Homo sapiens: one gene and its partners. The protein of the gene in region 1 binds, or shares a complex with, the protein of each later gene. Links are inferred from orthologs where the notes say so. Each region holds a gene or a part of one and is shown on either strand. Other genes may lie near its edges. The genes, in order: PTEN, MAST2, SNTG1 and PARD3. A codon is read from its position in the direction of its gene.

Region 1 (8,149 bases):
ATTCGGGCTATTCTGCAGAGGTTGCAGTGAGCCATGATCACGTCACTGCACTCCAGCCTGAGGAACAGAGGGAGACTCCGTCTCAAAAAAAAAAAAAAAAAAAAAAAAAAAAAAAATTTCTGCCTACTCTATGAAGCACCTGGTAGGTGTCCCAATATTTTCTGGTATATGGGAATTACCTTTTTCTATTATTGGAAGGTCTAAAAAGCAAACAATGTGCTCCATATGGCTAGAGTTAGTATTAAGGGGACCAAGTAGAATAATTGGTAGCTAGTGTTAGCCTGGAGACTAACATAGTCAAAGCTGTCTTGTCATGTTATGTCTTTTTTATTTGTATTGCTCCACGGTCCAAGACAAAATTTCTGAACGCCACTTGGACACAGTGAGTACCTGGTCTGCTCTATTGTTCTCAGGAGCAACCAACTCAACCCTTATTTCTCTGAGAATGATGATTTCATACAGCACATCTCTCTACCAAGATGTGAAAGATGACACCATGGCATCTGAAATAGCTTCAGGAGAGATTTGGGACATGGGAAGCTTGTAGACAATAATGGAAAATTCTCTTTTAGAATATAGTTACTTGTATGACCCACAGTAGCGCCTTTTGGAGAATGTCTTAAAATTATCTTTATTGAAAGAACAATAATGTTTGTTATTAGGATAAATGAAATAAGGGGAAAACCTCAGACCCTTGGAACAATGGGTTTACATTCAATCCAATGATTATTATGTTTTTATATTCTGTATTATTTAGAAAACAGTAGTTAAACAGACAGAAATACAGAAGATTGTTTAAAAATTAAAGCTATTGAGTTAGATCCCTTTTTGAAAGGTCAGCGTATGGGAGATGAGAAAGGCACTATAGAGATCAGAGTGTTTACACAAAAGACATCTTAGCAGATGACCTACAAAGAGCACATCAAGTATTTATATCATCCACATCAAGTTGCTGGTCATTTCGCTTATCAAAGAAAATAAGAAAGAAATTTTCTTTCGACATTATTTTGGTGTAGTAACAATAGAGTTTTGGAATCAGCTGTTAGAAGCGATAATTAAAGCTAGTTTACCATGCTTACTAATCAATCTACATAGTCACCCTGAAGCTTTATATAATTGTCCCTTTGTTACAAGCTTCTACTTCTCCCTATGGTATTCTGGTTCTGAATCCAGACAGGTAAAGAACTAAGTATGGCCGGGCGCGGTGGCTCACGCCTGTAATCCCAGCACTTTGGGAGGCCGTGGCGGGCAGATCACGAGGTCAGGAGATCGAGACCATCCTGACCAACATGGTGAAACCCTGTCTTTACTAAACTACAAAAAATTAGCCCGGCATGATGGTGTGCGCCTGTAGTCCCAGCTACTCGGGAGGCTGAGGCAGGGGAATTGCTTGAACCTGGGAGGCAGAGGTTGCAGTGAACCGAGATCATGCCACTGCACTCCAGCCTGTGAGACTCCGTCTCAAAAAAAAAAAAAAAAAAAGAAAAAAAAAAAAAGAACTGAAGTGCTTGGAGACCAGTGTATTGTAATATCTATACAGCCAAGCAGGTATTTTCAACTGAACTTTAAAAAAGTACTATTTTTGAAACTTTCTTTAGTTTAGATAGGGCCAGCCATTTGGGTAGAAAGGAAAAGAAAAACAAAAAATTGGAAAAGGATGCATCAGTATTTCTTTCAGAAACAACTTAACACTAGGAACAGAAGGAGGATTTTATTCACCAACTCCTAATAACCACCTGATGTTGCTGTTGGGCTGGCCAAATATCTGCCAACATTGATGATCCTTTCATTCACCACTAGAGAGAAGTAGAGGGACCTGATGTTTAGAGAAGCAGTAAAACCCATTTCCCATTTTCTTTCTTCAGCCGGATGGAAGTACTTGGAGGCTGGTCTCATATTCTAGCACTTTAGTGCTGGTGATGCAGATTATCTCTGCTCCAGAGTAACTCTGTGCCATGGAATCCAAGAGGATTCTGTCGCACCAGGACAGGAATGCACCCTTGTTTCATTTGCTTCCATGAAAGCAGATTTCAGAGATTCTCAGATGCTATGAGACTAATTGTCACTTAGGGTAGGCTCCAGGGGAGGGACAGAGAAGGGCAGTGCTAATAACAGGGACTCTGGAGACAAGATCAGCAATCTAAGAAACAAATGTGAGACATTTTACCCCTCCCTAATCTACTCCCCTTTTAAAAGTTCATCTTCATTTTCCCTTTTTCTACCACGCAGTAATTGATAATTAAACACAGCTCTGGTTTTTACCATGCAATCTAGTAGAACACCTAGACATCAGGAACTCCTTATCTTTGGTTATTTATACAATAATGAAATCTGTAGTTCACGCTAGGCTGTGTGGACAGTATCTGCATCTCTGGAAATCAACTGGAGGCCTTTCTCTTACTCTTTTCCGGTTGCTTTCCATTTCCTTTTCCACTGTGGTCCTTGCCTTTCCCAAGCTGACCAGAACTATGCACAAAACCAGTCTTCAATAAATATCAACACTGAAGCTTCAGCAGGTTGTTAACTCCTGCACAGCTATCTTAAATGCTGTATATAAGTGCAAAGTTTTATGGAGCCTCAGAGGTCTCTAAGAACACTGTAAATATCCCAGGTTTAATTAGTAGTCCCGGAGTTAGGTAATGGCCTGTGGCTTTCTGCGCTAGGTCTCTTGAGGTTTCTAGTCTTCAGAGGTTGCCTGCAACTATGATGTGCACATATACAGTACTCTTTCTCAAATACAGCATAAACCCTCTTTAGACTTTGCTAGGCACTTACAATTATTGAACACACATGCAGATTGATTCTCATTCTCTCAAAGTTTGAAAAACAACTCAGTGCTTCAACCTAGGTCTCGTTAGATATTTTTTGACTCAAATTGTCGTCTGTAGTTCTACTTCCTAAGGGAAATGAAAAAACAATAAATTCCCAGACTGGTGTTGATGCTCATTCTCTTTAAGCGGGTCGACTACTTGCTTTGTAGATCCTTGACGGGTGGGGTGCGGGGTAGGAGTGCGATCCAACTCTCAGCATTTCCGAATCAGCTCTCTCACGGTGACAGGTCAGCCCAATCGGGGCTGTAAACAGACTTGACAGGTTTGTTCTGGGCTGACGGCCATTGACTAGGTTCTCAGACCAGATAAGTCACTTGGCTGAGTCCACAGTAGGTGGGGCGCGCTCACCAGCTCAGGGGTAGTGACTGGACGTTTGTTGCAACATCGGAGAATGCACGCTCTGGGCTGCAGCAGGAGATACCCTCAAGCACAGAACCAAAAGGGTTCACCCTAAGCGGCAGGGCATCAGCGATGGAGAGGCCCGAGAGCCCTAGCGCCCAGCTCCTTTTCCCACGTTTGGGAAGGCGCAGAATAGGTCGATGTAGAGCAAGGAGTGAGTCTCAGGTCTCAGTCCTTTGGCTTGCTCTTAGGGTAGCAGGCGAGGAGTGGCACCAGTTTGGGGACTCTCTCCCCGCGTTCTGTAAGAATCGGCGGCAGCCAGCAGGCGGGGAGGCGGGGGCACGTGTTTGGATGTGGGTGCTTGTGTAACCAGTTCCCCAAGCGCCAGCCCCGACAGCGCTCCTTCGGGAGGCTGGTCCGAGCCCCTGTTTCCGCCGCGGCGCAGGAAGGGTTGGGGTTCCGCTGCCTGCACCAGGCAAGAGCACCCCGAGCAAAGGAAGAAGACGACTTGCCTCCGGAGCTATCACTGGGGAGTGGGAATTTGGAAAGTTCCCCAACTAGGGACACACGTGACCTCCTTCGGAAAGTAGTTCCGACTGTGGCCCGTGTATCCTTCCACCTCCTTTTGAACCCTCCTAGGTCTCCTCGCCCCGCCCACTCGCTGGGCTGCAGCTTCCTACCGTTCCGTACTTTCCACTCAACCCGGTAACCCCAAACGTGCACGGTCCGGCCGGGGCGCGCGGAGCCTGGCCCCGGGCGATCCATCCTGCCGGGTTTTCACGGCGGCCAAGGGGGGGCGGGGCTAGGTGGTCTCTGAGAACCGAGCTTGACTCCGACGCCGCGAACCGACCTGGAGCCCGAGGGGAAAGATGCTCGACTCTCTTGGGGGCACCGGAGCGGGCGCAGGAGAGGCCTGCGGGGTGCGTCCCACTCACAGGGATCCTCTTTCAGTTCATTTAGATAGGTGCCCTTTGGGCCCTTGAAATTCAACGGCTATGTGTTCACGTTCAGCACGCTCGGCTGAGAGCTTTCATTTTTAGGGCAAACGAGCCGAGTTACCGGGGAAGCGAGAGGTGGGGCGCTGCAAGGGAGCCGGATGAGGTGATACACGCTGGCGACACAATAGCAGGTTGCTCTTTGTGCTAAGACTGACACCATGAGGACACAGATTTGGGGGAAGGGGGAATCTCTAGGCAAAGGCTGTTACAGTCAAATCTCTGCGAACGATTGTGATCCGACAGCGGTGCAAAAGGAAAGAGCGAATGCAGTCCACGCCGCGGAAATCTAGGGGTAGAGGCAAGGGGGGAGGGTATTCCCCTTGCAGGGACCGTCCCTGCATTTCCCTCTACACTGAGCAGCGTGGTCACCTGGTCCTTTTCACCTGTGCACAGGTAACCTCAGACTCGAGTCAGTGACACTGCTCAACGCACCCATCTCAGCTTTCATCATCAGTCCTCCACCCCCGCCCCACAACAGCCTACCCTGCCTCCGGCTGGGTTTCTGGGCAGAGGCCGAGGCTTAGCTCGTTATCCTCGCCTCGCGTTGCTGCAAAAGCCGCAGCAAGTGCAGCTGCAGGCTGGCGGCTGGGAACCGGCCCGAGCAAGCCCCAGGCAGCTACACTGGGCATGCTCAGTAGAGCCTGCGGCTTGGGGACTCTGCGCTCGCACCCAGAGCTACCGCTCTGCCCCCTCCTACCGCCCCCTGCCCTGCCCTGCCCTCCCCTCGCCCGGCGCGGTCCCGTCCGCCTCTCGCTCGCCTCCCGCCTCCCCTCGGTCTTCCGAGGCGCCCGGGCTCCCGGCGCGGCGGCGGAGGGGGCGGGCAGGCCGGCGGGCGGTGATGTGGCGGGACTCTTTATGCGCTGCGGCAGGATACGCGCTCGGCGCTGGGACGCGACTGCGCTCAGTTCTCTCCTCTCGGAAGCTGCAGCCATGATGGAAGTTTGAGAGTTGAGCCGCTGTGAGGCGAGGCCGGGCTCAGGCGAGGGAGATGAGAGACGGCGGCGGCCGCGGCCCGGAGCCCCTCTCAGCGCCTGTGAGCAGCCGCGGGGGCAGCGCCCTCGGGGAGCCGGCCGGCCTGCGGCGGCGGCAGCGGCGGCGTTTCTCGCCTCCTCTTCGTCTTTTCTAACCGTGCAGCCTCTTCCTCGGCTTCTCCTGAAAGGGAAGGTGGAAGCCGTGGGCTCGGGCGGGAGCCGGCTGAGGCGCGGCGGCGGCGGCGGCACCTCCCGCTCCTGGAGCGGGGGGGAGAAGCGGCGGCGGCGGCGGCCGCGGCGGCTGCAGCTCCAGGGAGGGGGTCTGAGTCGCCTGTCACCATTTCCAGGGCTGGGAACGCCGGAGAGTTGGTCTCTCCCCTTCTACTGCCTCCAACACGGCGGCGGCGGCGGCTGGCACATCCAGGGACCCGGGCCGGTTTTAAACCTCCCGTGCGCCGCCGCCGCACCCCCCGTGGCCCGGGCTCCGGAGGCCGCCGGCGGAGGCAGCCGTTCGGAGGATTATTCGTCTTCTCCCCATTCCGCTGCCGCCGCTGCCAGGCCTCTGGCTGCTGAGGAGAAGCAGGCCCAGTCGCTGCAACCATCCAGCAGCCGCCGCAGCAGCCATTACCCGGCTGCGGTCCAGAGCCAAGCGGCGGCAGAGCGAGGGGCATCAGCTACCGCCAAGTCCAGAGCCATTTCCATCCTGCAGAAGAAGCCCCGCCACCAGCAGCTTCTGCCATCTCTCTCCTCCTTTTTCTTCAGCCACAGGCTCCCAGACATGACAGCCATCATCAAAGAGATCGTTAGCAGAAACAAAAGGAGATATCAAGAGGATGGATTCGACTTAGACTTGACCTGTATCCATTTCTGCGGCTGCTCCTCTTTACCTTTCTGTCACTCTCTTAGAACGTGGGAGTAGACGGATGCGAAAATGTCCGTAGTTTGGGTGACTATAACATTTAACCCTGGTCAGGTTGCTAGGTCATATATTTTGTGTTTCCTTTCTGTGTATTCAACCTAGGGTGTGTTTGGCTAGACGGAACTCTTGCCTGGTTGCAAGTGTCAAGCCACCGATTGCTTTCTTAGGCTATCTATATGGTCTCTTCCTGAGGGCTATTGTCCGTTAATACAGAATACAGTACACTGTTAGTGGATTAGCGAGCTCGGTAATCCGGTCTCCTAAATGAACAAAAAAGTAGACGCTTTTTGAGGTTGAGCATATTTCGATTAAATCTTGGCTTAGGCCCTAGATCAAGGGTTTAGATCAGAATAAAATGAAAATTAGTGTTGCACGTACGCATATTGCATCAGAATCTTGCAGTGATTGTTTTAGTTTCCTGAGTTGCATTGATAGATTCTTTTAAAATATGACTGATTTGCATAACTTTAGAAGCAGAATCATTTTCAGTATATATGGTGCACATTGAGGGCAAAAAGTAGTTTTGTTAATGTTTAAACTTAAGTTACCTACAACTTTGAACTGTATGTAGAAGTTTTGTAGTTTGAAGTCAATAGTGCCATAATATACCTTATAAGGCGTTCTTACTAGATCTTTGTTATATTTACCTTTTTCTCTCCCTATGGGGTGATGTAGGATAGTGCTTGAAATTTGCACTTCAGTAGCATTTAATGTTCAGTGCTCTTGTCATAAACATAGAATGGATATTGAGTAGTTTCTGATCCCAGATGGTAATGTGTAGGTTCAAGGGTATTGTGTGTAGCAAGTGAAGATTGCAGAAATAAAACTTCAGTTCATGCTTGAAATTTAAGTATTGTTGTGATGCCAGAATTGCTGCTCACCGTTTTTAGGTTTCAGGTCCTCTGACACCTTTTGGTATCGTTAATTTTACTGATTTGTGTAGAATGTCAGTTGTATTTTACCAGCTAATATCTAGAAATGCTGGCAAGAGGGGTTTACTCCAGCTTTAGATTGTAGGTATGTTAGCTTTTTTCATACAGTGTATTAAATTTACTGAGTCAGCTTGCTGAATAAGACAGAAGCCCAAGAATTTTAACAGTGTGTAGCTTTAGTTGTCTAAAAGTTAGGCCTTCGGGCTTCAAAAGTTAGTGGTCATCGAAAAGCATTAATCTTTGCAGTTTCAGGTACAACACATTGGTTTTGATTAGGGATGGGGATGGGGCCCTCTTTTTGCAGAATGGGGAAAGTATTGACAGGAATTGAGAGCTATTGGTAGGCCAGTGTATAAGGTATGTGAAAACAGAATTAAGTTATTGGTCTGAAGTGACTGAAGCATTTAGGCTCTATCAAGGCCTAAAATTTGGTAATATGAGTTTGGTAATGCGAATTGTGGCAGTGGACAATATTTAGTTAAAATTATGTAATTGCATAAGTACTAGCACAGTATTTTTAATAAAAGTTATTTCTTAGCAAATGTCAGTTGCATTTTGTCTAAAGGTAGAGTGACACTACAGTGTCTATATGTCCTGCTAAAAATTGTGGGGAATATTTTTTTTTAAGACAGCGTTTATATCGGGAGAGGTTTTATTCCGTTGGATTATGTTAGCTGCATATAAATGTGCACAGTTAATTTTGCCCAAGTTTTTGTTTTGAAATGAATGTAAAACTTACTGAAGAAGTAGCTTCCCAAAATTTAGTTTTCTGTTAAGCCAAAAATATTATTTTAAAAGAGTATTTGCAAATTTTGAAGTTGACATTAATTGAGAATGTTACTAAGGCTAAACTGGACCCGCTTGCCCAGAAGATAATTATGGAAAAATTCTTTTGTGACTTCCAAAGCAGTCTACTATTAGCATGAATTACTGACAGTCATCCAAATATATAGGAACAAAAAATTAAATGTTTATGTAACTTTGAAAAAAAAGCCTTTGAAGAAAATAATTGAATGCTGTCTGGGAGACAGATTTCTTTCAGCACTTAAAGTACATAACACACTACTTTTACTTTTCCCACTTGATTTTAAATTATCAGGGTTATTAAGACCTTAAAATTATTTTACCAGGTTTTTACATGTGAGCTGTGACATGACTG
Region 2 (6,199 bases), on another chromosome or scaffold:
ATTTTAAAACTCCTCCCATAGACTTTATGACTCTGCTGGTTGCTGCTTCTGTCTTCTCTTTTATCTCAAACGCACCCAAAGTTAAACTCTTTGCCTTCTCTCACTTCTTCCCCTCCTCATTTCCTGGCTGAGGCAATCCTAGTTAGGAGAGATGTGAGTTCCGGAGTCCAAGGGAGACCTACGTTCTAACCCCCGTTCTACCCAAGCTACTGTATTACCATGGGCATCAAAGTCTTAGTGCCCTTATCTATGAAGGAATTTTAGTTGCTACATGGTATTTTCTGGTTCCCCATCACCTTCACGAAGTCAAATCTCCTGGAAGACCATTAGACATGGCCCTTGCCTCACTTGCCAGACCCGTTTCTACTTTGAATTATCTTTGGTTCCTTGACTATGCCAGGTATACTGCATGTGCTAAACGTTGCCTGGACAGCCTTTCTTATGCCAACCTCCACTCTTCCACACCCAGCAAACTACTACCTATCATCTATTCTTCATGTTTGAGCTCAAATGTCAAAGCCTTTGGGAAGTCAAGCTGGGTTAGGTGGCCCTCCCCTGGTGGTGGAAACTGTTTTATTCACCACTATATTCCCAGCAGCAACACAGGACCTAGTTACATGTGGGTTGACCGAAGGAAAACAAGCAAGCAAAAGACATAAAGATGGTTTCCAGGAGCATATATTACACAGGTCTGAGTGCAAGAAATGGCAAACAACTGCTATGTTTGCTTTAAAAGCTCATCTGGAACCAATGCCAAATCCCGATGCTTTTGATGGCCCCCTGGTTCTTGGCCCCTCCTGAGGCTGGGCTCAGACTTCTGGGTGAGGGGGCAGCCTCGGCATGGAACGTCCTGCCTTCTGTCACCTGAGGCATCAGGCACTTGGGTGATGCTCAGGGCTGGATCCTCTTTCACTGCTTGTGCACACTCAGACTCCCATAGCCAGCCCTGGCTGGGATCCTCATAAGATGGATGGGCCAGTCTGGGGGCACTAGGTGGCTGTGTCTTCCCCTGCTCCCTGGGAGACAGGTTCTTAGGCTGGGCTGGAGTTGTGTTTTCCAAATCCTGGAGGTTGGCTAGCCCACCTGCCATGGTTGCCTTTCTGCTTGGGGATGCCCTGTCTGGGCCCTCAATAAGGGATTTCCAGGACCACATGCTCAGCTTCCCAGAGGTGGAGCTGGGAGGAGAGCAACTGCTGGTGGGGGTGAGTCCCGAAGTGCTGGGAGAAAGTGCTGTTAGTGCCTGGGTGTGGAGGTGCTGGGCCTTCCAGCAACCTTCAGGAGGGATGGGGTCTGTGGCTCCAGACTGACCTAGGTTGGGGCCTGCTGAGGAGGAGCTGGCAGCCTCCTCAATGGCTTGTGGGCTCCCGAGCCTCCTGTGGGGACCACTGGGACTTTCCATTCTGGGAGGCCCCAGTGTGATCCCTGTCAATAGGCTTGGGACCATTGGGCCCAGGCTCCTAGGGTCTCTGGACGGGAAAGGATCCTCTTCCCCACTCTCTCCTGCTCCTTTAGGGGCCACACTCTGGCTCACTTCTGGGTGAGGTGCCAAGCTCAGCTCCTGTGCACCCTGGCTGTTCTCAGGCCCTTCCTCGGTGTCGTCCTCTGAGGAGTCCACCTCACGAATGGCTTCTTGCTTCTGCAGCGACTCCCGTCGTTCGGCTCGGTCCTGCCGGAGGGTGCCTAGGGCCCGTGAGGGAGCAGGCTGCAGCACCCCCTTCCCTGGCAGGGCCCCCTTGCCAGACAGCACACTCCTGGCTCCAACTACCTCCAGAGGGCTCACTTCCCTGGGCGGCAGTTCCTTCTTTAGTTCAGAGTGGGGCAGGTCAAGGCTGTGCTTGCGAGAAGTGGCTAGCTTCTTCTCAGAGGCGGCAAGTGCTGCTGCCAGTTTCTCAGCCGACTGCACCCTCTTGAGTAGTGGTGAACGGGGTGGCTCCGCACTCTTGGGCCGTGAGAGTTGCCTGCCCAGGGGAGGTGACAAGTGAAGCTTTGTGGGAAAGGCCTGGGCTACATGGCCAGACAGGGGCGATGGGGACCGCTGAGGTGAAGCTGTTGGGGGTGGGGGAGAAGGGGTGTGGGCCAGTGGTGACAGTGGGATGCTGCCTGCTGACTTGCGCCGTGGAGAGCGGTACTGGCGTTGGAGCTTGGGTGCCAGACCGTGGAGGGAGCTGGGCCGTGTGTGCCCAGAGCCGGCTGGGGAACTGGGCACGCTGGAGCTGGGGGAGCTGCTCTGTGATGAATTCCCTCCCACTTTGTACAGAGACAGACAGACAGACAGACAAAAGCAGAGCAGTGTTAGCTGTTAGAAGTGACTCAAGGGCAAGACAGGGCTTAGCCCTGTTATGTCCCAGAAACCAAGCTACCCCCTTCCCCATCAATTAATTCCTCCCCAAGACTACAGGATCTTTCAGGGGGTGGGCTAAATGAGAGACTCAGAGTGGGATCTGTCAGAAGCACACAGGGCCTAGGAACTTTCCTATTTCCCAGGGGTTGTCACTGATCTGCAGGGAGCCCTTCGTACCTGAATGCACAGCATCGGGGGTCACCCGGTAGCCTTGAGTGGGAGATCGGGGGGAAAGGCTGTGGCTGTGTGTGGGAGAGCCTGGCCCACTCTCCCCTGATGACAAGGAGCGGTTAAGGGAAGAAAGGCTGCGGCTGGTGTGGAGCAGGGATGCTTGCTTGGTGATCTTGCGGAACAGGGAGCTCCTTTTTCTGCTGCGGGGATAAGGGTCAAAGGCTGAGTCGGTGCAGTGAGCACAGCACACACTGGACCCCCAGGGCCAAGGCACCCACCACGTACCAGCACTCATGTGGCTCAGAGAAAACCCTCTTCACTGCGCCTGGCTCACCTTTCTTGCCCATCCTTGCCGCGGCTCCTCTTGCTCCTTCGGGCCATCTTGGCCTTGTAGCTGCCCTTCCGAGCTGGCCCCACTTTAATGGATGTGTTCTCCAGGGGAGTTGTTGAAATGGCCACCTTGTTTCCACTCTGGGGAGCAGAGCATGAGGCCTAGGCTAAGCTGGAGCCATATTCTTGCCCCTCCCCTCCCCCAATCCTTCCCTTCTGGCATGGCTATACCACAGCTCCAGCTTTTTGTCCCTGCACCAACACATCTGAACCACAGGCCTATATTATTGTTTTTACAGATGAGGAAATGGCTCCCATTGGAGCCCCAGAGTGGTTTGGGGTAAGAAGGTAGAAAACAGGCTAATCCGTCCCATTCTGCAGCCCTACCCACAGCTCAGAAGGATCCCTGGGCCTTAGTCAGGGAGGGTACTGCCTTGTGGAGAAAACTCTCTGTTGTGCCACATTCAAGTTCTGTGTGTACCTACATCTTTTTTTTTTTTTTTTAAGACAGAGTCTCACTCTGTCACCCAGGCTGGAGTGCAGTGGTGCGATCTCAGCTCACTGCAACCTCTGCCTCCTGGGTTCAAGCACTTCTCCTGCCTCAGCCTCCCAAGTAGCTGGGATTACAGGCATGTGCTACCACACTCGGCTAATTTTTTTTTTTTTTTTTGGAAACAGAGTCTTGCTGTGTCTCCCAAGCTGGAGTGCAGTGGTATGACCTCAGCTCACTGCAAACTGCCTTCCAGGTTCAAGCAATTCTCCTTCCTCAGCCTCCCGAGTAGCCGGGATTACAAGTGCCTACCACCACGCTTGGCTAATTTTTGTTATTTTTAGTAGAGTTTTGCCATGCTGGGCAGGCTGGTCTCAAACTCCTGACCACAGGTGATCCACCCGCCTCGGCCTCCCAAAGTGCTGGGATTACAGGCGTGAGCCACCACACCCAGGCATTTTTTTTTTTTTTTTTTTGTATTTTTAGTAGAGGCAGGGTTTCACCATGTTGGCTAGGCTGGTCTCAAACTTCTGGTCTCAAGTGATCCACCTGCCTCAGCCTCCTAAAGTGTTGGGATTTACAGGCATGAGCCACCGCGCCCGGCCTGTGTGTACCTACATCCATACTCGGTGTAGATGTGTGTGCACCCAACTCACCCACTCCCCTAACTGCCATCACAGACTCACAGGCTGAGGTCATTCAGGGACCATGCAGGCAGCACGCCCAGCACTAACCTTCAGGATCAGCTCTACCACCTCCGTGTGCACCAGGCCATGCACAGGTTCCCCATTGACATGGGTGATGAGGTCACCTTGACGAAGCCCTGCCTCACTGGCCGGACCTCCATCCTCCACGTGCTGTGCCAGGAAGAGAACAGTACTCAGACTGGAGCCTGAACACGAAGTATGGGGCCTGGTTCTGGACATTAAGCTGTGAGCCCCTTCACCACCACCCTTTGACCCCCGAGCAGGGACAGATGGGCTCCACAAAGGGGAAGCTGGAAGGATGATGAAGCAGGGAGACAGCAGGTCTGGATGGTCAGACATACCCACACCATATGGTGCACGGTGTAGACATCGGAGTCACCCATGTAGACGCGAATGGCCCGCAGGGTGAAGCCATACTTCTTGCCAGCTCGGTGGATGATGATGGGAGGCCTCATGCTGCCAAGGGCTGGCAAGAAGTCCCTGCTTGGAGAAGAGTCCCGGGATGATGGGTTGGACGACTGAGAATGTGGGGACATGGGGCTGGCCAACGGGGAGCAGGTGTGGTGTTCTGGAGAAGGAGAAGCCAGGACTTAGTGGGTCAGAGGGCTTTGGCCTGGCCCCTGGTCCAGTCTGTTGATGTCAGCACAACTCTAGTCACAGACAGAGCCTGAGCCTAGGTCCATTTTCCCCACAGCCCCTGACCTGTGAAGCCCTCTCCCGTGTCCAGACCCCAAGAGACGGTGGTGGTGATGAGAAATGGCAGCTAGCATTTATGTGTGTATCAGGGACTATATAAGCTTGTCATATATATTTAAATGTCACAACCTATCAGCTGGCCTCTATTATATCCACATTTTTGGATAAGAAACTTGAGGCTTAGAGAAGTTAAGCAACTTGCTCAAGGTCAAGAGCCTGTTAGTGATGGAGCCAGGATTTGAGTGTGAGCTCTCTACCCCAAAGCCTGCACTTGTGACATGGTGCTGTCCTGCTTTCTGGCACATGTATACACAACCCCAGACACCAATACACACCTTCAGAGACCACAGTCAGATCTGTGCTTAACACACACACACACACCTGCCACGTGCAGAACCCTCCCAAGGCCTAGAGATTACAAGGCCCTTCCTGTGAGTTTTATCCCAGCTCCCCAGGGGCCTCACCCGAAGGAATGAGGAGTGAGAGGGCTGTGGCTGAGGCGGACTTGATCACTTTGTTGACAGGGCGAGCAGTGCGCTTCTCTGTTGAGTCCCCAGAGAGCAGCCGGTGGCGGGCCCTACGCACAGCCAGGTCACTGATGGCCTTGGCTGTGGCTCCCTCAGCCAGCTGTGAGGTCCCACGGCCTCGGGTCTCCATAGCTGTAGGCCCAAGTAAGCAGTGAGACCCGCGATGCCGCTGAGCCTCCCTGCCCTGCAGTATCCTCCAGCTTAGGTCGTTTGGCCGCCCACTGGGCCATACCTGGACTGGAACCACTGCTCCGGCCAACAGCTTCCTCATCCAGCTTTGGCCGCTGCTCCCCTGAGTGTTCAGTGACAGGCCCAGATACCCCCTCTCCAGATGGGGGTGTCAGGACCCATATACCCTCCTGTGGTTGCCTCCTGAGGGTGCTGCTGGCCTCCTCAGGGCCCTCCGGGAACCGAGGCGCATCCAGGAGGCCTGAGCAGCGGCGTCGCACTGTCATTGGAGGGCTTGAGTCACTCTCTGTGTGGGATGACTCAGACACCGACAGCCGCTTCCGTAATCTATGAGACACAAGGCCTGGGGTGAGTGACCCAGGTGGTCCCCCTCCTCCTGCCAGGTCTCCTTAGGGGCACACAAGGGTTATAGTAACAGAACTTTCCTCCGCAGACATTCCTCCAGGAGCCACCCTTGTGAATGCCCCCTCCCTGCCACCTGCACTCCTCCCTGGCATCGGAATCTCTCCCATGATCTGTGACAATGCAGGGATAGCTGTGTCGCCCACCCTGGGTGAACTCTGGGTGCTCACATCTCAGGGGAGCCAATCACCCAGCTCCGGTCTCGGCCTTTGAGCCCTGCCAGGCCATCTGAATGGTCCTCCTTCTCCTCACTCAGGCTGCGCTTGGTCGGGGGTGGTGTCCGGCGCTCCTCGAGCAGTGAGAGCCGCTCCATGCTGCTGTACACCTGTGGGCACAGGGGATGCGC
Region 3 (7,188 bases), on another chromosome or scaffold:
CTATTTTAAAATCTATTTCCTATATTGTATTTCTAATCAGATGTATTACTTTTATGATTTTTATTGTTGTATGTGTTAATGACTTCATGTAAAAATGTAATTGCTTTTCATGAGTAGTATGAATACAATTGATTAGTTTGTGTTTTCTTATCTGTAAAAAAACCAGAAAAGTACATTATATTGTGTTCAAAAGTGAGAAGAAGAGTTGTTTGAACAGGATAGTTGTAGAAGGAGTATTGGCAAGCATTAGGCAGGGTGGACTGGAAATCAGGGACATGTTCCTGGATGATATGACCTTTGATAAAAAGTCTCAAAAACTCTGTGTGGCTTTGAAGGATGGAGGCAAAGGGAAAGAGCATTGTGAGTAAATGACGCCAACAGGCTGGAAATTAGGAGGTCATATTTGGAGAACAGGAAGTGACCTTGTCAACAATTCATTAAATCAGAGTATTTTCTATATTAGATTTAAGTCAGAGTAATGTCTAATTAAAATTAGAAATATATTTTTAATTAGTAGTAGGAAATAGCCTGGAAAGATCAAGTCGTGGAAAAATTAAAATTTTATTCAGAGCTGTATTACTAGTCACTAAACAAAAATGGCTAATTATAGAATGTATATGAGGTCAAGATTCCCAGAACTGTATTTTTACACTACTTTGGAATGATATTAGAACTCTAGGGAAGTGGTCATGCATCTGAGGGAGCCACACATCCTGCAGTCCCACAGACTCTCACCTGTATCCGTTCTACTTCTAGAAAGGTTGCTGTCTGGAAGGCTCTTTCCCACTGGGCGAGGTCACTTTCCAGCTCCACTGAGAAGTACAGGTCCTCCCCAGACTCAGACTGCACGGTGAAGCACTGTTTCCGTCGGTCCAGCAGGTCACTGTCCTGGTGAAAACCTGGAGTTACACAGGCTGGCACACATCACTTCACATTGCTAACCTGGCCATTCCTGACTGGACCAAGGTGCAGAAGCCACAGGTAAAAAGACAACACTCTGCGAATTCACCAAGTCTTCATTAGACATTATACCAGAACTCCGGGCTTCAAAGCCCCAACACATGACTTCTCTGTCTTTACACTGAAGCATGTCCATAAAATAGAAGTTAGGGTTTCTGGCTTCATCTCTTACTAACAATATAACCACCAAAGCATTTAACATACAAGACTTGGTTTATTACTCTACAAAGGGGTGACACACTATCTCTTCCCTTCCTTACATAACTGTTATGATGTTGAAATTAAATAATGCTTGTGAACATGTTTGTAAATTTTAAGGAACTTTATAAGCAAACCAAAATATTCTTCTCCATGAGAAATGAAAAAGAAAATGAGTCTAATTTGTCTACAGCAATAATATTGCTTAAAAAAAAACGCATTATTTACCTTACTTGTGTAACTGTATTTCATTGTATCAAAAAAACGACTTTGATGCTGGCAATTTCTTGGTCTTACCAGAAGTTTTCAACTGAAGTGTTCACAAATTTACATATATTCCAATTTAAGAGACATTAACATGAGAAAAAAAAGTGAAGCAAATAATTTATGAAACAGAGTAACCCAATGCAACATGTCAGATATAGCATTTTAAATACAGTCATGTGCCGCATAAGGATGTTTGGGTTAATGATGAACTGCATATGCGACGGTGATCCTATAAGGTTATAAGGGAGCTGAAAAATTCCTATCCCCTAGCAATGTCATAGCCGTTGTAATGTCATAGAGCAATGCATTACTCTTGTGTTTGTGGTCATGCTGGTGTAAACAAACCTGCTGTGCTGACAGCTGTGTAAGTCTAGCACATACGATTATGATGTATGCTACATAATAATAATGATGATAAGAAAGAATATGTTACTGGTTTATGTATTTACTGTATTATAGTAATACAGTAAATATTACTGTATTTACTGTACTCCTATTTTTTTAGTGTACTCCTTCTATTTATTAAAAATATAGTTAACTATAAAACAGGCTCAAGCAGTTCCTTCAGAAGGTATCCAGAAGACGGCATCATTATCATAAGAGATGACAGCTCCATGCGTGTTATTGCCCCTGAAGACCTTCCAGTGGGACAAGATGTGATGATGGAACTCATCCTGACTATATGCAGGCCAAGGTTAATGTGTGTGTTTCTGTCTTATTTTTTATAAAAATTTTAAAAAGCCAAAAATAAAAAAGTAATTTGTAAATTTAAAAGTAGAAAAAAAATGTAGAGAATAAGGATATAGAATAATTTTGTACAGCTACATAATGTGTTTGTGTTTTAAGCTAAGCACTTCTACAAAAAAGGCCAAAGTTGAAAAAATTAACTTTGTAAAGTAAAAAATGTTACAGTAAGCTAAGCTTAGTTTATTATTGCAGAAAAAAATACTTCTTATAAATGTAGTGTAGTCTAAGTGCTCAGTATTTATAAAGTCTATAGTGCTGTATAGTAACATCCTAGGCCTTCACATTTACTCATCACTCATTCATTGACTCACCCAGAGCAACTACCATTCTGCAAACTCCATTCATGGTAAGTGCCCTGTATCTGTGTATCATTTTTTTTTTAAATCTTTTAGACTGTACTTTTACTTTACTTTTTCTATGTGTAGATGTGTTTAAACAACTACTTACCATTATGTTACTTTTGCCTACAGTATTCAATACAGTCATATGCTATACAGGTGTGTAACCTAGGAGAAATAGGCTGTACTGTATAACCTCGCTGTGCAGTACGTTATGCTGTCTCAGGTTGTGCAAGCAAATTCTGTGGTGTTTGTACAACAGTGGAACCATCTAACTGAGAGGCATTTCCTGAAATATATCTCAGTTATTAAATGACTGTATATATGCTATATCTATGCAGTGTACTGAAAATTGTCAAAGGGTTAATCACTGGTATCTGTAATCATTTCTCATAAGGAGGGATGTAAGTGTATCATTATTAAACACCCAAAATGTTAGATGGAATTCTCTGCTTTGGCAAATGTTTAAAAAATAATAACTATTTTCATTGTTTCCTGCTTGCATTCTTATAATTGCTGGAAGAGAGCTAATGGAAGGCATTTACTTCCAGGGTTGTAGAATTTAGCTCTGACCCTTGCTGCCAGTAGATGCTCAGAAAGCTAAAAGGATGATAAATGCTGTGCTTATTGATTTTCCTACTCTGTCTGAAGGGAGAAAAAAATGAAAACATAATATGTTTGAGAGTACAATCTAATGATAAATTATAAATACTTTTTAGTAGTTTTGGGGTTATAATATCTATGGAGGGAACAATGAGAGATAATAACTACACAAGTAAATATATTAGTACAAATTATTGTAAATGCCATTATAAAAAAAATAAGAGGCTGGGCGCAGTGGCTCATGTCAGTAATCCCAGCAATTTGGGAGGCCGAGGTGGGCAGATCACTTGAGGTTGGGGAGTTCCAGACCAGACTGTCCCACATGGTGAAACCCCATTTCTAATAAAAATACAAAAATTAGCCGGACATGGTGGTGCATCCCTGTAATTCCAGCTACGTGGGAGTCTGAGGCAGGAGAATCACTTGAACCTAGGATGAGGAGGTTGCAGTGAGCCAAGACTGTGCCACTGCATTCCAGCGTGGGCAACCAGAGGGAAACTCCATCTCAAAAAGAGGAAGAAGAAGAGGGAGAAGGAGGAGGAGGAGGAGGAGGAGAAGAAGAAGAAGAAGAAGAGGAGGAGGAGGAGGAAGAGGAAGAGAAAGAAGAAGAAGAAGAAGGAGAAGAAGGAGAAGAAAAAGAAAAAGAAGAAGAAAAAGAGGAAGATGAAGAGGAAGAGGAAGGCAAAGAAGAAGAAGAAGAAGGAAGAAGAAGAAGAGGAAGAAAAAGAGGAGGAAGAAGAAGAGGAAGAGGAACACGAAGAAGAAGAAGAAGAAGAAGAAGAAGAAGAGGAAGAAAAAGGTATTATATCACAATAGATTGAAAAGCTAGAGAAATGTTCTCTAGGAAGTAAATTTTAAACAGTGGCTGAAAACGAGTAGAATATCAAAGATAAAGTATAGAAAAAGGGTGTTCTTTCCAGAGAGTGGATGGGACTGGCTGGGGCCAAGTCAGGCATTTCAGAAATTCAAAGAAAAGGAGGCAGAAACATTGAGAGCTGAAGCTAGGGAAGGACATGGGATGATTGATCTGGTTATAAATTTTGGACTTGAACACAGTATAATGACAAGCTACTATAGCAAAAATTTTAGTATGCCCTCTCTTTATACTGCAGATATTTCAACATCTACCTTAGCTTTTTAAATTGATAAATTGGCAAAAATCTATAACTAAACGTTGCAGTTTCCAGAAACCTTGCCAATTTTATGGTTTATTAAATTGCCCTTCATTTTCCTTATAATAAAAAATATTATCTAATGTCATTATTAGTCAGAAAATTTTGTTATTTTTTCCTTTTCATAAATCACATGTAGCAATAGGATCTTAAAATGGACTTCATGTAAGATTTTCTATTCTCTTAGCAAAACTTTACTCCTTTGCTCTTTTAAAACTCAATTTAAGATCTTCTGTTATATTACCCAAGTCGTGACTCTCTCTCAGACAAAGCATCCTCTAATCAACTCTGCAAATATAGTTTCAGCATCTCTGAAAACTTCTTGCCATTTCCTGTTGTTATTTATAATATACTTCTCATGAACTGACTCACACTGCAAATGGCATCTGAGCACCCAGGTCTCATTTTAGTGAGGGAGAGAAATATGTTAAAATAACGAGCATATGACAGTGCTATAGAGGTAACATGCTAAGGAAGCAGAATAAGGAACGATAAATCATCTTGAGGGAAAGTAGGAGGGGGAAAGTTGTATTGTAGGGAGAGACTGTAGTACCATCAAGGACTTAAAGACAAATGCAAGAGCAACCTGGTGCAAGCCTGAAAAAGACCAGGTGATCCTGCTAAGAAATTCATAGAATGCACCTGCCAGGAAAAGATATTGGAGAGTTAAGTGAGAAGGGGGCAGCATAGACTCTAAGCTTTAGATGGCTAAGAGTGGATGGGTGGGAGGAGGAGAAACTTTGGAAAAAGCAGGGGTTCCTTTATCAGAAATTTAGTGAAAAGTGACTATAGCTCAATCATTTTAAAGATCTACTTTCAACATAATCATCTAAAATCATTGACACTAGATTTCTTTTACTAGAGTTTCTACCTTTGCTGCCTATAACATTTCAAAAGATTGTGTTCCTTTACGGTTGCAGTCATTATCAAGTTATATGCAAGTAATAATATATATATAACTAACTGAAAAACTAAATAAGATACTCTTAGAGACTGGCATTGACTAGAAGTATTAGTATAATAAGGAGTATTTACACGATTATCCACATAGGTTTAAATAAGAATGTATATATTCCTCTTTCTCACCCTCATTCTCTCTCTAACACACATGCAGGAGCTGTTATAAGGTGATAAGAACAAAAGTTCTAGCTTCAGAATTCTGTCTTGATTTGAATCTCCTCTCTTTTATTTATTAATAGGTAATCCTTGTCAAGTTGATTACCATATATATAGCTTCCTTCACTCATCACTAAAGTGGAAATAATTAATTGATCTGATGATTAAATAAGATACTATATTTAATTCTTTGCTTAGTATCTAATACTTGGAAGTACTTAATGTTGGAAATTTTTGTTGTCAGTATTGATTCAATAAAATAAATACAGATAAATATTCGTATCATTTCCTAACTTGCCTTCTATGGCTTGCTCTCTGCATGCATTTCTCTTTTGTCATAGTTTGACTTATGCCCCAGTAGAAAGAATAGCCTCCAGAATACTTTTTTGCCAACTGGAAAGTATCATTTAATAATAGTAATGATAATAATAATAGCTAAACATATCAAGAACTCATCAGTTGCATTTTTCTCAATTTTCTCACTTCTCCAGAAGTATCTTCTATTTTGTTAGATTTGTTCCAAGTTCTCTCAGATTTATAAAGCAATATTACAAAGAAACAACAGGTTTTTTTTTCAAGATGGCTGACTAGATGCTTTTCCAGGGTACTTCATCCACTTAGAAGAATGACAATGGTGTGTAGACAATCACACTTTGCACATATGAAAGCAAAATCAAATATTGGGACCCCAAACTCACTATACCAAAGGGCTAAGTTTAGGTAGTTAGTCATGAAAAAACTGCCTTCCTTTCATTCCCAAAAAGCTGTAATTTCATGTTTACTTTATGTAAAATGTAGCTTTTCTGCTCATTAGTAAGATCCTCACAAGAATGTGACCACTTATCTCATTGCCTACCCAGACTTTTTTTCTTTCTTCCTCTTCCTGCTTGCTTTTTCCCTGTTAAATATTGAAGTTCCCAGAACCCTTTTTAAAAAAAAGCACAGGGTACAGATCTCCTTGTGATTTGTGTTTCTTTTTCCCAGGCATGTTCTCAACCTTGGCAAAATAAATCTCTAATTGATTAAGATCCACCTCAGTAACTTTTTTGTTTACAAACATATTATCCAAGAGAGAACACAGGAGTTCAACAGTAACACACGAAGAAACTCCAAAATCTGACCAGAAAAAGAAGAACAGTCAGCCTGTGTGGCTGTGGGACTGGCTGAAAATGAGAAGAGAGTAAATTCCCAATATGGGAGAGGGTGAGTGAGTATCTTTCTGTGGTCCAATTTCCCACTATAGAATCATATAATTCAGGCCACGGTAGAGCACCATGACTTTTCTAAGCCCTAGATCTACCTTGGGATGTGGCTGGGAGACTGTAAGAAGTACCTGCTCTGGGAAGTGTCCCATGCACTTCCCGAGACCTTGGAACCTACAACAGAACACCATTCTTGATCCTAGCTCTTTGCAAGCTGTGCACAGTCCTGAAAACTAGCAGCAGTGGCAGCCTTTGTCATTAAAGAGGCTCTAACAGTATCCTGGGGATCTGGTGCTCAAGCAGGGAAGAGGTTCCCACAGCCAGAACCGAGAATCAAGTATGGCATGGGCTCCAGCCATTGGCATGCTGGAACCAGGCTCACCCCATCTTTCACTTCACCCCCTTCCCCCACCAGTACAGGAGGGGATTTGTTTGGGAGGCATAGTGTTGGGCTGTGCAGTGACTCCTAAGGCCTGGGGCAGCTTGTGTTGACAACTAGAAGTAAACTGCACTAACTAAGTGAACAGCCAAACCTACTGACAAAGTTGAGAAGGTGGTGAGCCCCACCAAAAATGGGGGCATGAG
Region 4 (7,758 bases), about 53 Mb from region 1:
GCCCGCCAGAAAGTGAGTGGCTGAGGTGGCTTTATTCCACTCTGCTGCACATTTGTCTTTAACAGAGTTGAGTGTTAATATCACCTGCTCTGCCAGCCTCCACCTTGTTCTGCCAACTTTCATGGACTTCACCAACAAGCTACCTCATTCTTCAGCTCTGGGACCTGGGAAGGAGGGAGATATTTGACTGGGGACTTGGGCTCTGAGTGGTGGGTCATGGCAAACATGGGTGCTTACTTTCTGCAGGGATGGGCCTTTTCTGGCATTCTGAGGCTGGGTGACACCGGGGCTTCTAGAAGTGGTGATCTCAGCCTGGACTCAAGTTTTTGCAAAGTGGGCTCTCTCAGCAGGGCAGTGCTGACATACCTTCCAGCAGTGTCTGGGAACCAGAACAGGAGAACGAAAATGCAGAGAAGGGCCAGGCATGGTGGCTCACACCTGTAATCCCAGCACTTTGGGAGGCTGAGGTGGGTGGATCATTTGAGGTCAGGAGTTTGAGACCAGCTTGGCCAACATGGTGAGACCCTGTCTCTACTATAAAGTATAAAAATTAGCCGGGCGTGGTGGTGCACGCCTGTAATCCCAGCTACTTGGGAGGCTGAGGTGGGAGAATCCCTTGAACCCGGAAGGCAGAGGTTGCAGTGAGCCAAGATCGTGCTACTGCACTCCAGCCTAGGCAACAGCAAGACTGCATCTCAAAAAAAAAAAAAAAAAAAAAAAAGGCAGTGGATACTTTGGTGATGGTTGCTGATGGACTGGTTGAGGGCAACCCTGGAATATTTTGAAGGGGGCTCTATTTGGGCAGGTGAGGACTTGGATATGTATTCCCAATGTGTCATGAAATTTTATGAATTACAAAAAAATTTTCATGAATTTTGACTCAAGACACCAAAGGCTCTGGCATCTAGAATTATGCAGTACTAGTTTTTCATCCATTATTAATATAAACGGAATCACTGCATCTAGATAAACTAGGTAGATTTAAATACAGCTGTAAGGCTTTATCTGGTTGGTGGAATCAGTGTTATTAATCCTCTGGATCATATTTTTTAAAAACATCCATATCCTTATTAGGTATTGAATAGTTAAAGGAATTGATGTACATAAAATGGTATCCACATATCCTGATGTCATCTCTGTTATGAAAGCTTCCCCCTTCTCTAGTACCGCCATAAACACTTTGCTGGCACTGAATATTTAATGTGTTGAATTATAGTTATTGGAATAGCTATCTTATTCTGACCTCTAGATTGTCCTTCTTTTACTCACCTTTATAATTCTGTAATATTTAGCCAGTGCTTCCTGCAAGGAAGGTCTTTACTAACTGCATGTGGAATCAAATTTAAGTGAATTGAGTGCAGGCCTGAGAGTCAGAGCTGGAGTTTTTGGTTGTAGTCCTAGCCCAGTCACTGGAAAGTTGTATCACCTGGCTAGTCATTTCTTTGAGCCTTGGTCTTCTCCTGTCCTCCTCATCTCTCCTGCCTCCTCCACTGTCATCATTTGCTATCCTGTGCTGGACTTTGTTACCCTCTGCCTTCATTACGGTAACTGGACTGTACTACGCTATACATTCCCATGTGGCAGCGTGGCAGCATGTACTGTTTTTTTTTTTTTCTTTTGAGACAGAGTTTCATTCTTGTTGCCCTCGGCTCACCGCAACCTCGGCCTCCTGGGTTCAAGCGATTCTCCTGCTTCAGCCTCCCGAGTAGCTGGGATTACAGGCATGTGCCACCATGCCCGGCTAATTTTGTATTTTTAGTAGAGACGGGGTTTCTCCATGTTGGTCAGGCTGGTCTCGAACTCCCGAGCTCAGGTATCTGCCCACTTCGGCCTCCCAAAATGCTGGGATTACAGGCGTGAGCCACCATACCCAGCCGTACTGTTTTCTGATACATTATTTTATTTAACATTCATAACTTATGACCAGGTGCCGTGGCTCACACCTGTAATCCCAGCACTATGGGAGGCTGAAGCGGGAGAATCGCTTGAGGACAGGAGTTCAAGACCAGCCTGGGCCACATAGTGAGACCTTATCTCTACAAACAATTTAAAAATTAGCTGGGCATAGTGGTATTTGTCTGTAGTCTTAGCTGCTCTAGAGGCTGAGGAAGGATTGCTTGAGCCTGGGAGTCTGAGGCAGCAGTGAGCTAAGATTGTGCCATTGCCCTTTAGCCTGAACAACAGAGCAAGACTCTATCTCAAAAAAAAAGAAAGACTGACTCATAACCTATGAGATCTATGAGATGGATATGGATATGATAAGCTCTACTTCTCTACTTTTCAGCTGATAAAACGGGCTGGAGAAAGAGTGACTGTTGTGTCTAAGGCACTAGTAAGTGGCCAAATATGGATCTGAACCTAGATCAGTGTGATGTCCTATGTACTCTGGTTATTACTGAAAAATGACTTTCGATTAGAATTATTTTGAGAAAGCCCCACTCTAATTTATTATACTCAAGCTAGTATACCCCTCTGAACTAGTGTAGCATCAAAACTAGTATACATTCTCTGCCGCGCGGTGGCTCACGCTGCAATCCCAGCACTTTGGGAGGCTGAGGCGGGCGGATTGACCAGCCTGGCCAGCATGGTGAGACCCTGTCTCTAACTGAAAATACAATAATTAGCTGGGCGTGGTGGCGGGCACCTATAATCCCAGCTACTCGGGAGGCGGAGGCAGGAGAATCATTTGAATCCAGAAGGCGGAGGTTGCACTGAGCCGAAATCACGCCACTGCGCTCCAGCCTGCGCAACAGAGCGAGACTTGGTCTCAAAATAAATAAATAAATAAATAAATAAAAATAAATACATAAATAAATGTAAAAAACACAAAATAAAATAAAGTAGTATACATTCTAAACTAGTAGTATACTCTCCCAATGCATGAAAACAGAAACAACACCTATAATTATCAGTAATTGTTGTTGTGGATCCAAGTATCTATGTAAGAAGCAAAAAACCCACATCAACAGTTGTTGTCATCGTTGTCACAAACTTAATTACTGGCTAGAAATGTCTAGTGCTGCAGCCAAACAGCAGTAGGAGGAGCCTTTCCCATGGCTGAGTGGAAGGAGGGAAACCTAGACTATTTCTGGGTCTGCCTTGAGCTTTCTCTGCCGCCTTGGGCAAGTGACTTTGGCCCTGGGTCAATGTCCTGGAGTAAGATGGGGCTAACACCACTGCACTGATTTGCTGGGACAGGTGGTGGAAAGTGGTGGTCCAGGGCTGGGAGAGGAGAGGAAGGGCAATGTTTCCTAGGAGAAACTGCACTATGCTGGGGCAGCTGCGGTGCTGCAAAGCGCAGGGAGTGTGGCAAGCGGACGAACCTCGTGTCTTGTTTCCTTGTTTTAAGATTGGAGGTGGAGTGGGATGGATGGTCGATCGCCAGCTCTTCCAGCTCTTAAGTGCTCAAGTTCTGCGCCAACCCAGGGGAGCTTGATTGCTTTCACGTGTCTTGGAAACAACTGGCAAAAAAGAATTTCACATAGTCTGGAAAGGGCTTGGGACAGGGACCACTCTTTGCAGACATTTGTCATTCTTTAAACATAATGACATACATTTATTAAGGACTCATAGTCCATAACTAAGACAAAATGAGCTTCAGTTACGTTCCCTAACTCGGTCCACGTTCCTTTAGAACGTCTCAAGCCCGCATGTCACTCATCGCGGAGTCGCAGCCTTCCCCTGGGTTCGGGCGTCTGCGTTAAGCGCCGGCACATCGTGGGGATCCCCGCGTGAGATTTCTCTGCGCCGTCGGAATAGACTGTTCACGGATTCGCGTTAGGATTCCTTATGCTGCAGAACTTCAAAGAAATAAATGTATCAGAATTGCGATGTTTAAGTTCTAATCTATTTAAGCGGGTGGGTCAGCAGAGGGTCAACAGGAAACTTCAAGGTAAATAGTGGCCTCTGGAAAAGGCCCGGTCGCTCACGGCTTCCCCACTGTCTCCCCAGAGCAGACTATTAATTCTTGCGTTTCAGGCAGAACTGCCGCTGCCGGCCCTGCAGCAGAGCTAGGGAGCGGGCAGGGCAGAAACCCAGCCGAGCAAGCTGCAGGCTCGAGTCCCCGCGGGCGGAGAGGCTCGGGCTGGAGCCTCCGGGGCGGTGAGGAGGGGACTCACCGCACTGAGCACAAACTGCTTTCCCCGGGAGCGCCTGCACCCAAAACCCTCCAGTTCGAGGAATGGGATTAAAAGTGACAAAGAAAGGGGAAGGGGGGCTCCGTGGAGACTTCTGGAGGCGTGGAAGGGGCGTCCCCGAGGAGGGGCGACGCAGCCCTGCAGGGTGCTGGGCGGGCGGGGTGAAGGGGGCTGGGGGGCGCCTGGGCCAGGGCTGGTGGGGGCAGACGGCCGCCTGCCCGTGCTGGCACTGGGGCGAGGGGTCCCGCGCCCCCGGAGGGAGGGAGGGAGGGAGGGAAGGAGGGAAGGAGGTCGGCCCCCGAGGGCGGTGGCGGGGGCGCGAGCTGCGGTCCTGCGCTCCGCCCCGCGCGGGTAGCCGGCCGCGCCTCCCCCTGCCGCATGTGCGCGGTGTTGTGTGCCCTGCCCTGCTCCTCCCCCTCCCCTCCCCTCCCCTCCCCTCCCCTCCCGCCGTCCCCTCCCCCAGCGGCCCCGAGCGAGCGCCAGCGCCACACAGCCCCGGGCAGCCGCCGGCGAGCGCGCCGCGACGCCGAACAGGTGGCCGGAGGCTGCGGGCGCCGCGGCGGGGAGAGGCGAGGCAAGCCCCGGGCGAAGCGAGGCGAGGCGAGGGCGGCCGGGCCGGGCATGCGAGCTGAGCGGCCCCCCGGCGTCGCCGCCGCCTGCCCGCGCCCCTAGCCGCCCGCGCGCCCGAGTCCCCAGCGGCTCCTCCGCGCCCAGCGTCCTCGGTCCCGGCCTCGGCTGCTCCGGCTGCGCTCGGCGAGGGGCGCGGGCCCGCCCGCGGCGGCGGCGGCATGAAAGTGACCGTGTGCTTCGGACGGACCCGGGTGGTCGTGCCGTGCGGGGACGGCCACATGAAAGTTTTCAGCCTCATCCAGCAGGCGGTGACCCGCTACCGGAAGGCCATCGCCAAGGTGAGGGGCCGGGGGCGCGGGCGGGGAGGGGGCGGCGGCGGGGACGGCGCCGGGATCAATATGGCGCTTCCTGGAAGGGGGAGGAGAGGCGCAGGGAGGCGGGGAAAGGGAAAGTGCGGCCGGTCGGGCCTCGCGGGCGCCCCCCGCCCCGGACTGCGGGCGCCAAAGTTCTCTGCGCGGGCCGGGGCGCAGCCTCTGGGACACCCAGCCGGGTCCCGCGGCCCCCGCCCTCACCCTCCGCCCGGGAGCTCCGGCCTCGGTAGCGCGGGGCGAGCCGGGCAGCGGCGCATAGGCCGGCCCTGGGCGCCTCCCCGGAGTCTGCAGACCCAGCCAAGCCCCGAGCCAGCGCGCGGGGGGCGCAGGCCGGGAAATCCAGCCCCAGGCCTTTCCCGGCTCCCAGGCCCCGGGGGCACAGGCCGGGGACTGGGAACTTTTGGTGTGAGGAGAGTTTCGTGACTGCCCTTCCGACAGAGGCGGGTTGCGAGCCTTCTGCCTCCTCTCCCTTACTCGGGCGGGGGCGGAACAGCGGCGGGGGGCTTTTCCTCCATGTCCCCTGCTGGTAGGGGCCGGCAGGGGCGGCCCGTCGCGTCCGGGGGCTGCAGGGTTTGGGGAGTCGCCGGCTTGGGGTCGGGGAGGCGTTCCCGGGAGGGCCACCGCTGGCACTTGGCACTCGCTTGCGAGCATTTACTGAGCTGATCCCACTTGCTGGGCTCTGGAAAGCACAACCTTGGAAGAGTCGCGGAATGAAAAGTTTTCCTGCGAGGACCTCAGCTCCTACCTATCCCGGGCTGGTTCCATGTGGCTGGGCTGCGGGGCCGGGCCTGACTTGGGAGTTGAGTGGATTTCCCTTTTTCCTGGTGGACTGATAACATTGTCTCCACTTCACAGCATTCCTCTACTGTGTGTCAGAAGTGAAAAGGCGTTTTGTTAAATTGTTTTACCGACTGTGTCTGTGTTTGACAACAGCCCACGCTGAAGTTTCTCCCAAGCACCCGGGGATATATTTCCTTTGTAGTAGAGTCCTCTTTGGTGGGGAGCGCATTCGTTTGGGTGCAGTATTTCCCATTTGTTCCCGACAGTGGCCTGGCCCCTGTGGGCTTGGGGGCTGCAAATGACGTTGGAAAGTGGCTTGGTCAGCCCTATTGAGCGTACACAGGGTACTCCGGTGGCATCTTCAGTTCTCTCAGAAATTAAGAAGTAAAAGCTTTTTAGACTTTTGTTTTGCTTTTAGTATATATTGGAAAAAATAGCATAAATTTGGCCTTTTAAAGATAATTTTGGGGGACGTTTGGAGACCCGACACAAGGATGGAAGACGTTGGCTTTAGTAGCTCTGTTATGTTCCTTACAGTTGAACTCTTTTATTGAAAATCAAATAAAATTAGTGGGAATTGGGCACCTGTTTATCTTGCAAAGCTGACAAAGGGAAAGAAAACCATCTAAATGGACATTTAGCATTTTTAAGTGTTGTTTATGTGTGACAGTTTATGCTTTAAATGTTCCAAAAGAGTACTCAAATTGTTCAGGCACTCTGGAAACCAACAAAACAAATTGTGCAAGGAAAGAGAAATAAAGTAATATGCACTCTGCAGTACGTCTAGGCTCCTGAATAGGAAGAGGGTGGTCAACATTTTCTTTCACTTTACTAATTTTATGTGATTAAAATTGTTTTACCTACTGTGTCCCATGTTTCATCCTGCACAAAATAGACATAGGCTGAACTGCCTGTTTGGCAGTAGTTCAAATGTAGTTGTTCCAGGCATTCGTTCCACAGAAATTCTGAAGCTTTGACTGTGTCCATGGCACTGTTCTGGGTGCTGGACATCTAAGGGACCCACTGGCTGTGAGAAGCTGAGCAAGAGGCTGCGGGGTCCTCCAGGTGAAGGAGCTGGTGATGACATGGGGAGAAGAGGTGGCCTCTGGGATGCTGGGTGGCTAGAGTGCAGGGCCTTGGTCACGGACCTGGTCCTTATTAACGATTAGCAGTGGTTGTTTCACAGGGCGTAGAAAAGGGAGTGCAGTTTTTTAAGGGTGTCTGGGAAGGTGTCACAAAGAGAAAAGGGGCCTATGAGCTGAAGGAAGGGAGGGTGATAGTGACATGGGAGTTGGAGATGAGAGGGAGGGTCAGAGATGGGTCAGGGGTTCCAACACTTACATGCTCTTTAAGTACAACTTAGAGTTCTGTAGGTGAATTTTAACGGGGGCTTTGCAGTATACCAAGTTCAGTCATTGGATCCCAAGATTGTTGACCCTTAAATGTTGCCAGAGCTGGAGTGTCTTCTAGGTCTCCTTTTTCTCGTTTTTCTTCTGAAATTGCTAGACAATGATTAAGATTAATTTTTAGTCTTTCTTACTACTTTTCCCATTCTATATTAAGTGATGAGGAAGTGTTAATATGTATTTAACACTGTTTTAACTTTTATTCTCTATCTGTTCCTTATCCGTATTGCCTAATAGAACAAGAGAAATTCTGTGTGAAGAATTGGGTGGCTGGATAGTTGTGGAGTGGTGTTTAGGTTGCTAGGTGACATGTGGCTTGATGAGCTCCCATCTGGTGGGGAAAAGTGTGGGCAGATCATGTTTATGGCTTTGGATAATAACCAACCAAGCCAAAAATAAAAAATAAAAAGGAAAAGAGAAAGGTCCCAACTCTCAAATCACCAAGGCTTTCTCTGCAGTAAACATTTTCTGGTGTGGTGGGGCTAATTTTCTGGC

Evidence for each region.
Region 2: the proteins of PTEN (region 1) and MAST2 are in contact, whole or in part, in an NMR structure (PDB 2KYL), measured with the Homo sapiens proteins. Residues at the interface, in NP_000305.3 of Homo sapiens: Pro391, Phe392, Asp393, Glu394, Asp395, Gln396, His397, Thr398, Gln399, Ile400, Thr401, Lys402, Val403; in NP_055927.2 of Homo sapiens: Lys1112 (codon at 4,461), Lys1113 (codon at 4,458), Tyr1114 (codon at 4,455), Gly1115 (codon at 4,452), Phe1116 (codon at 4,449), Thr1117 (codon at 4,446), Leu1118 (codon at 4,443), Arg1119 (codon at 4,440), Ala1120 (codon at 4,437), Ile1121 (codon at 4,434), Arg1122 (codon at 4,431), Val1123 (codon at 4,428), Tyr1124 (codon at 4,425), Met1136 (codon at 4,389), Trp1138 (codon at 4,383), Glu1141 (codon at 4,183), His1170 (codon at 4,096), Val1174 (codon at 4,084), Ile1177 (codon at 4,075), Leu1178 (codon at 4,072), Leu1191 (codon at 2,950).
Region 3: the proteins of PTEN (region 1) and SNTG1 are in contact, whole or in part, in a crystal structure (PDB 7PC7), measured with the Homo sapiens proteins. Residues at the interface, in NP_000305.3 of Homo sapiens: Asp395, Gln396, His397, Thr398, Gln399, Ile400, Thr401, Lys402, Val403; in NP_001274742.1 of Homo sapiens: Gly67, Phe68, Gly69, Leu70, Ser71, Ile72, Lys73, Gly74, Glu77, His78, Ser85, Lys86, Ile87, Ser88, His118, Val122, Leu125, Arg126.
Region 4: the proteins of PTEN (region 1) and PARD3 are in contact, whole or in part, in an NMR structure (PDB 2K20), measured with the Rattus norvegicus proteins. The link is inferred for Homo sapiens from one-to-one orthologs. Residues at the interface, in NP_113794.1 of Rattus norvegicus: Asp393, Glu394, Asp395, Ser398, Gln399, Ile400, Thr401, Lys402, Val403; in NP_112514.1 of Rattus norvegicus: Ala599, Gly600, Leu601, Gly602, Val603, Ser604, Val605, Lys606, Gly607, Asn608, Arg609, Ser610, Lys611, His614, Lys622, Ile625, Met659, Leu662, Arg663, Met666.

The regions. Positions count from the first base shown.
Region 1 is NC_000010.11:87,858,553-87,866,701, forward strand, and holds the start of PTEN (phosphatidylinositol 3,4,5-trisphosphate 3-phosphatase and dual-specificity protein phosphatase PTEN), read left to right. Parts: upstream 1-5,102; 5' UTR 5,103-5,397; coding exon of another isoform or gene 5,398-5,551; 5' UTR 5,552-5,552; coding exon of another isoform or gene 5,553-5,917; coding exon 5,918-5,996; intron 5,997-8,149. Other genes in the region: KLLN (killin), read right to left, coding at 3,399-3,935; MLDHR (PTEN upstream open reading frame MP31), read left to right, coding at 5,007-5,102. UniProt on the Homo sapiens protein: Dual-specificity protein phosphatase, dephosphorylating tyrosine-, serine- and threonine-phosphorylated proteins.
Region 2 is NC_000001.11:46,030,586-46,036,784, reverse strand, and holds the end of MAST2 (microtubule-associated serine/threonine-protein kinase 2), read right to left. Parts: intron 6,179-6,199; coding exon 6,024-6,178; intron 5,779-6,023; coding exon 5,495-5,778; intron 5,395-5,494; coding exon 5,200-5,394; intron 4,608-5,199; coding exon 4,381-4,607; intron 4,190-4,380; coding exon 4,067-4,189; intron 2,984-4,066; coding exon 2,847-2,983; intron 2,713-2,846; coding exon 2,519-2,712; intron 2,248-2,518; coding exon 719-2,247; 3' UTR 663-718; downstream 1-662. UniProt on the Homo sapiens protein: Appears to link the dystrophin/utrophin network with microtubule filaments via the syntrophins. Phosphorylation of DMD or UTRN may modulate their affinities for associated proteins. Functions in a multi-protein complex in spermatid maturation.
Region 3 is NC_000008.11:50,698,300-50,705,487, reverse strand, and holds part of SNTG1 (gamma-1-syntrophin), read right to left. Parts: intron 915-7,188; exon of another isoform or gene 889-914; coding exon 736-888; intron 1-735. UniProt on the Homo sapiens protein: Adapter protein that binds to and probably organizes the subcellular localization of a variety of proteins. May link various receptors to the actin cytoskeleton and the dystrophin glycoprotein complex.
Region 4 is NC_000010.11:34,812,162-34,819,919, reverse strand, and holds the start of PARD3 (partitioning defective 3 homolog), read left to right. Parts: upstream 1-4,623; 5' UTR 4,624-4,924; coding exon 4,925-5,044; intron 5,045-7,758. UniProt on the Homo sapiens protein: Adapter protein involved in asymmetrical cell division and cell polarization processes. Seems to play a central role in the formation of epithelial tight junctions. Targets the phosphatase PTEN to cell junctions.